2 linked regions of the Homo sapiens genome follow. The protein of the gene in region 1 purifies or fractionates together with the protein of each later gene. This does not show direct contact. Each region holds a gene or a part of one and is shown on either strand. Other genes may lie near its edges. The genes, in order: ANXA13 and NMT2.

Region 1 (2,876 bases):
AGATGCACCCTGTCACCTGCTTGATGAATAGAGACCACGCTTCATTAAGCTGTAGATAGATCAAAGCTGGAAGGCAAGGGGAAGCCAGGAAAGAGCAAATAGCAGCATCGTAGGAAAGTGATCTTTAAAAAGGATCAAACATTTCATCAAGTCCACATCCCGGATTGCAAACCAAAAGATCGTGGGGAACCTGGAAAAGGTTCAGAGATGAGGCTTGCAAAACAACCCCAGTGAGGAAAAACAAAGAGTAGGGAGGTTGTTGAGCATAGGAGAGCAGGCGGCTGTCCAACTGGATACATTGTCAAGATGATGAAGTTTTGTTCCAGAAGGTTGCTGGCCAATCTGTTTCCCTTCAGAACCCTAGGACAGCACCAGAGATTTCACTCGATAGGGAAAGTTATTTCTGCTGGGAAATAACGAGAATCATGGACGTGGCCGGGAGGGCCCGAGGATGCCACAGCTCTCCTCTAGAGGGTCTTCAGGGGACAGGAGGGGAGCTATGCTTGAAGATTCCAGGTGCTCTGACCAGGGAATCTTCCAAATCTCATTTCGCAACGGTGTCAAGTCAGCTCTTTTCACACCTCTGTCTCACCATCCAGTCAGCTCGAAGGGCAGCCAGGTGACATTTAGGGGGGTCCCAAGGTCATTCCACAAAACGTGAAAGCCTCACATTCTCTTTTCCTTTGTCCTGCCCAGTGAGATGTGCCCAGGATTGTGAGGACTATTTTGCTGAACGTCTGTACAAGTCGATGAAGGGTGCGGGGACCGATGAGGAGACGTTGATTCGCATAGTCGTGACCAGGGCCGAGGTAAGACACACTCCGACTCCAAAGAGGCGGCTGCAACTTCTCTTTTTTCCACCACTGATGTCATCAACAAATAGTTTCTATTAAGGGCCTATTTACAGAAAAAGTAAAACAGAGACGGCCCCTTGCCTTCCCAGAATTTGCAGAAGACATTGTGCTCTGCTTCAATCTGTTTCTTTTTATAAAAATACAATAATGATCGTTGCTTCTTTTTTTGTCCTCTGTGGCTCTGGAGAGCTAGTGGAGGGGCGCAGAGGCAACCATGTCGAGCAGTTCTCAGGGGCTGCAGCTATGCATGGCTCCATGTTAAGGAAGACAAAACAAACACACTTGAAAGAGGTCAACCAGCAGCAGGAACAAAAAGAGAATGATTTCTGAATTCCTGAGTGAGGCCTTTCCTTAACTGAACACACTGCAGAAGCAAGCACATCAGCATAAGGCAATGGTTCTCAATCTTTTTAAAAACTATTGCTGTTCTAAGGAACCTTTTTAGACACGTGTTTCTTCATTGCCATCCCTTCCCCACAAGAAATGTTAACACCAGAGATAATACTACAAATCTGTTTATATACCATGTGGATATCAGTGCTTTATACATAAAAAAATTAAGGGCTTTTTCACCCCCTAAAAACCAATTTGTGCTTGCTCTCGGAGAATGTGTATGTATAAGAAAGAAAAGGGAGAGGAAGAGCCAACGGCTTGGGAGCAGCCGTCAAGATCACAGCTGGTCGGGTGCAATGGCTCATGCCTGTAATCCCAGCACTTTGGGAGGCCGAGGTGGGTGGATCGCCTGAGGTCAGGAGTTCGAGACCGGCCTGGCCAACATGGTGAAACCCCGTCACTACTAAAAATACAAAAATTAGCTGGGCATGGTGGCACACACTTGTAGTCCCAGCTACTCAGGAGGCTGAGGCATGAGAATTGCTTGAACCCAGAAGGTGGAGGTTGCAGTGAGCCAAGATGGTGCCACTACACTCCAGTCTGAGTAACAGAGCGAGACTCGGTCTCAAAAAAAAAAAAAAAAAAAAGGTCACAGCTAACAGTTCGGGATATGGGGCCACAGACAGAAGGTGGTACAAAATAAAGGGGAAGTGGCATTTCATCGGCAGCAGGAGAAGCCTTGGGGAATGAAGTGGAACTAAGCACTTGAAAACCACAGACATCTTCCCTCAAAAAAAAAAAAAAAAAGTGGTTAAATGAAGGGGGAGGTGAAGGGGGAGGGACACCAACCCAAATTCTGATCCATGGCTTCTTAACAAATAATGCTTAACATCTGACACTGTTTTTAAATATAACTTTGCAACAAGATGGTTCTTGCTTTTTTATTTCTATTCCTGGAATTTCTCCTCCCCTCCTTTCTCCTCCTCCACAACTCATCTTTTTCTATTGAAGGCCATGTCTCTCTCTCTCCCCTCTTTCCCTTTGCCAGTCTCTCTGCTCTGCTCCTGCCATGCCTCTGCCTCTCTCCTCCATGGCTCCAAATCCCTCTCCCTCCTTTCTCTCCAGGTCTTCTGCCTTGTCCGTCCCTCTGTCTGTTAGCAACTCGACCTCCAGCCAAAGTCACTGAGAGATGAGAGATCTTGAGGGACTCAAAAGGGACAGGTTGAACACAATGAAGACCCAGGATTCCAAATGACCCCCAGAGAGACTGGATCCATCCGAAGGGCTTGTGAGGGTTCCGTGATCACTCCGACATGGCCCACGGAGTGTTTTATTCCAAGAAGCTCTGTCCCATCTCAGAATCAACCACACGTCCTGGGCCATCTCAACATGTGGGCAGTTACCTCAGAAGGCTTCAGGCCTGGCTAGATATAGTAGTTTGGCCAGATTTCCTAATCTCCCAAAGCCACAGAACAGAGCCCTGTGCACCCCATCCCTACCCACCCTCCACCTTCCTGCCCGTGTCCCAGCACGGGGCAAGGAGCCAAGCAGCGGAGCAGGGGGACACACAGGCTGGGGGAGAGACAGACACCACCTGTCTCCTGTAGTGTCTGCCACCTGCTCCACATCCACTGCAAACCCTCCCTCACTCCCCCACATACTCCCATCCTGATCATTTCTCTCACTGTC
Region 2 (3,826 bases), on another chromosome or scaffold:
TTGAAATGATCTGAGCTTAGCTGTTTCTTTTTTGGGAGTTTTTAAATAATGGACTAAATGTCTTTAATGGTTATAGCACTATTCAGATGATCTGTTTCATCTTGGTTGAGTTTTAATAGTTTTTGAGGAGTTCATCCATTTCTTCTAAATTGTTGAATGTATGAGTGTAATTAATGTTCATTTTATTCCCTTGTTATCCTTTTAGTGGCTGTGGGATCTGTACTGATATCTCTTCTTTCATACCAGATATTGGTGATTCGTGTCTTCTCTTTCTTTGTTTTTGTCCATATTGGTAGACTTGTATCATTTTATTGATTTGTTTCCCAGAGAACCAGACTTTTGTTGGATATTCCCTGTTGTCTTCCTGTTTTCAGTGTCATTGATTTCTACCCTCGTGTTTATTGTTTCCTTCTGTCTGCTTGCTTTGGGTTTATTTTGCTCTTCTTTTCTAGTTCCTTGAGGGAAGAACTTACTGACTTGAGACCTTTCCCTGTTACTAGTAAGCATTTAGTTCTATCAGTTTCCCTCTCTGCACTGCTTTAGCTATTTCTGACGTATTTTGGTATGTTGTATCTTCGTTGTCATTCACGTCTATGTATTTTTTGGTTTCGTTTGAGGCTTCCTCTTTAGCCCACCCCTACTTAGAATTGTGCTGTTCAATTTTGCTGTGTTTAGAGATTTTCTGTTGTCTCCCTATTACAGATTTCTAGTTTGATTCAATTATGGTTAAAGAACACACACTGTATGGTTTTGATTATTTTAAGGCTCTTGAGGTTTGTTTTATTACTCGGGATATGGACTGTCTTGATGGATATTCCATGGGTGCATGAAACGTGTATACCACTACGGTTGTGTGGAGTGTTCTTTGTATGGCAATTGCATCATGTTGATTAATTGAGTTATTCAGCTCTTCTGTTTCCATGCTGATTTTCTGTCTAGCAGTTCTATCACTTGATGAGAGGGGCATGGAAGTCCCCAGCTGTAATTGTGGATTTGTCTATTTCTCCTTCCAACACTGTCAGTTTTTCTTGATTTCTTCTGGGCCTCTTGTTTGATACTCACATGTATATTAGGGTCTTTGTGTCTCCCTAGTGGATTGATCTTTTTATCATAATGTAATACCTCTCTTTCTAATAATTTTCCTTGCTCTGGAGTATACTTTATTGTATATTACTGTGACCAGACCTGCTTTTAAAAATTGTTTGGACTTTTTCCATCCTTTTACTTTCAAACTATTGATGTTATTGAATTTGAAGTGAGTTTCTTGGAAACAGCCTATAGCTGGGTCATGTTTCTTTACCCACACTACTGATGTTTCTTTTGATTGGTGTATTTAGACCACTTACATAAAAGGTGATTATTGGTATGGTAGAGCTTAAGTCTACCATTTGATTATTTGGTTTCTTTATGTTTCTTCTGGTTCTTGTTCCTCTGTTTCTTTTTTCTTGCCTTGCTGTGGATTACTTGAATATATTTTAGGATACTGTTTTATTTATAGTACCTTTGGGTGTATTTGTATAGTTTTTATGATGGTTGATGTGAGTATTACAATATATATATGTGACTTATAGTCGATTGGTAACAACATTTATTACTTTGAGTCACCTTACTTTTATTTAGGTCACTTTACCTTTTTCATTTTTAAATATTGTTGTCTTAAATATCAGACAGTATTATGATTTTTGTTTTAATCATCAAGTATGATTTGTAACACTGATTAATAATGATGCTTGAGGAGAAGCATAATTTATTATATGTAGCCCAAATTTCTACTCTATTATTCTTCCCTCCTTCCTGATGCTTCAAGATTCCTTCTTTTATTATTTCCTTTCTATTTGAAGAAATTCCTTTAGCCAGTCTCAGGGTATGTCTGCTAGTGACACATTCTTTTGGTTTCCATTTGTGTGAGACTACCTCTGTTTTTAGATTTAGTTTCCCAATTTTTTTTTTTAATTTTTTTTGGAGACAGTGTCTTGCTCTGTCACCCAGGCTGGAGTACAATGGTGCAATCTCTGCTCACTGCAACCTCCGCCTCTTGGGTTCAAGCAATTCTTGTGCTCAGCCTCCTGTGTAGCTGGAACTACAGGCGCATGCCACCACACCCTGCTAATGTTTTGTATTTTAGTAGAGACGGGGTTTCACCACGTTGGCCAGGCTGGTCTCGAACTTCTGAGCTCAGAAAATCCACCCACTTTGGCCTCCCCAAGTGCTGAGATTACAGGCATGAGCCACCATGCCCAGCCCTAGTTTGCTAATATTTTACTTAGGATCTTCTATACTCACTACTGAGGTTGGCCATTAATTTCCCCTTCTTACCCTGTCCTTGTCCTGTCTTGATACCAAAGTTAGAATGAGCTGAAGAGCTTGTCCTCTCTTTTCTCTGGAACAGTGTATGTAATAATAGGGATTACTTGTTCCTTGAAAGTTGTTAGAAGTTGCTTATAAGCCATCTAGACATGGTGCCATGGTGGGTTTTGTTGTGAGCGGGGTTTTTTTGTTTTGTTTTGTTTTGTTTTGTTTTTTATCAGTCTTTACAATTGATTGGGTGTGAGGGACAATGGAAAGATCATCCCACTCTTCCCCAACAGTTGGTGATTCTCTGGTCATTTTAACAGCAAGAGAGGAAACAGTAATTTTACCAGCAATATGAATGTGAAGAAGTAGTTTTCTGAAAGCAGATGATGAAAATGGGGTGGGGAACCTAATCAGGTTCTGCAGGTGCCTGCAGTAATTCAGCGTATGAGATGGATATGAGAAATTCTTAGAAGAATCTAAAATCCTTATTAAACCTGAAGGTTGAATTCATCTCCAATACTGAGCTGCTAATATAGAGCAGTAGGGAATCACTGTAGATTAACCCCTTTAGTTTCTTGCTGGCTGAAGAAAGGTCTAATGACTCGGAAGCCTTTGAAAACCAAAGCATACATCCTTCTGGAATTTCCTTTTCTGCTGAAAGAAATACTAGCAGTGGCATGTGTGTGGTCCAGCCTCTTCAGCCGCACGATTCAAACACATCATATTCTAAAAGTCAGCAAGGCCACCACAGCTAATTACAACAACCCGAACAATACTGGCTAATTTCTTGTATTGGAAGCTTTGCCAGTGATGATGAAATGAATGTCATCCATTGTATCCCTTATTTTTGATAGCTGCAAAATTCTCCAGTTGTTCACATGTGTATATTTTGGTGCAGTAGTAAGACCTTTCACAAGCTTGCGAACTCTTCCAAACAGCTTCCAGACTCTACCCAACCTTACTTAGGCCTGATATAATTCTTTCTGTGTGCTAAGACAGTGTGAGATAGTACACAGTATCTTTTAGTTGGAGAAGGCAGCCCTCTAATCCTTAAAGCTTTTATTTCTGCAAAAACAATGAATCTGCTTTTATCACTGTTCCCTTAGTCTAAAGAATTGACTCATTTGTCAGCCTGAGGGAAGCTTTCCTTTTAGGACATTCTGCTTCTATCTTTCTTTCTTTTTTTTTTTTTTTTTTTTTTTTTTGAGTCTCATCCTGTCGCCCAGGCTGGAGTGCAGTGACACAATCTTGGCTCACTGCAACCTCCGCCTCTGGGGTTCAAGCGATTCTCCAGCCTCAGCCTCCCAAGTAGCTGGGATTACAGGTGTGCGCCACCACACCTGGCTAAGTTTTCATATCTTTAGTAGAGATGGGGTTTCACCATGTTGGTCAGGCTGGTCTCGAACTCCTGACCTCATGATCCACACGCCTCATCCTCCCAAAGTGCTGGGATTACAGGCATGACATTCTGCTTCCTAAGAACTTTGTGCAAATCACCAATGGGCACTTAGGCTGAAGTCCCAACTCCAGG

Evidence for each region.
Region 2: the proteins of ANXA13 (region 1) and NMT2 purify together in Homo sapiens (affinity purification with mass spectrometry; one large-scale study listed by BioGRID and IntAct). This does not show direct contact.

What each region holds. Positions count from the first base shown.
Region 1 is NC_000008.11:123,682,543-123,685,418, reverse strand, and holds part of ANXA13 (annexin A13), read left to right. Parts: intron 1-696; coding exon 697-809; intron 810-2,876.
Region 2 is NC_000010.11:15,113,138-15,116,963, reverse strand, and holds part of NMT2 (glycylpeptide N-tetradecanoyltransferase 2), read left to right. Parts: intron 1-3,826.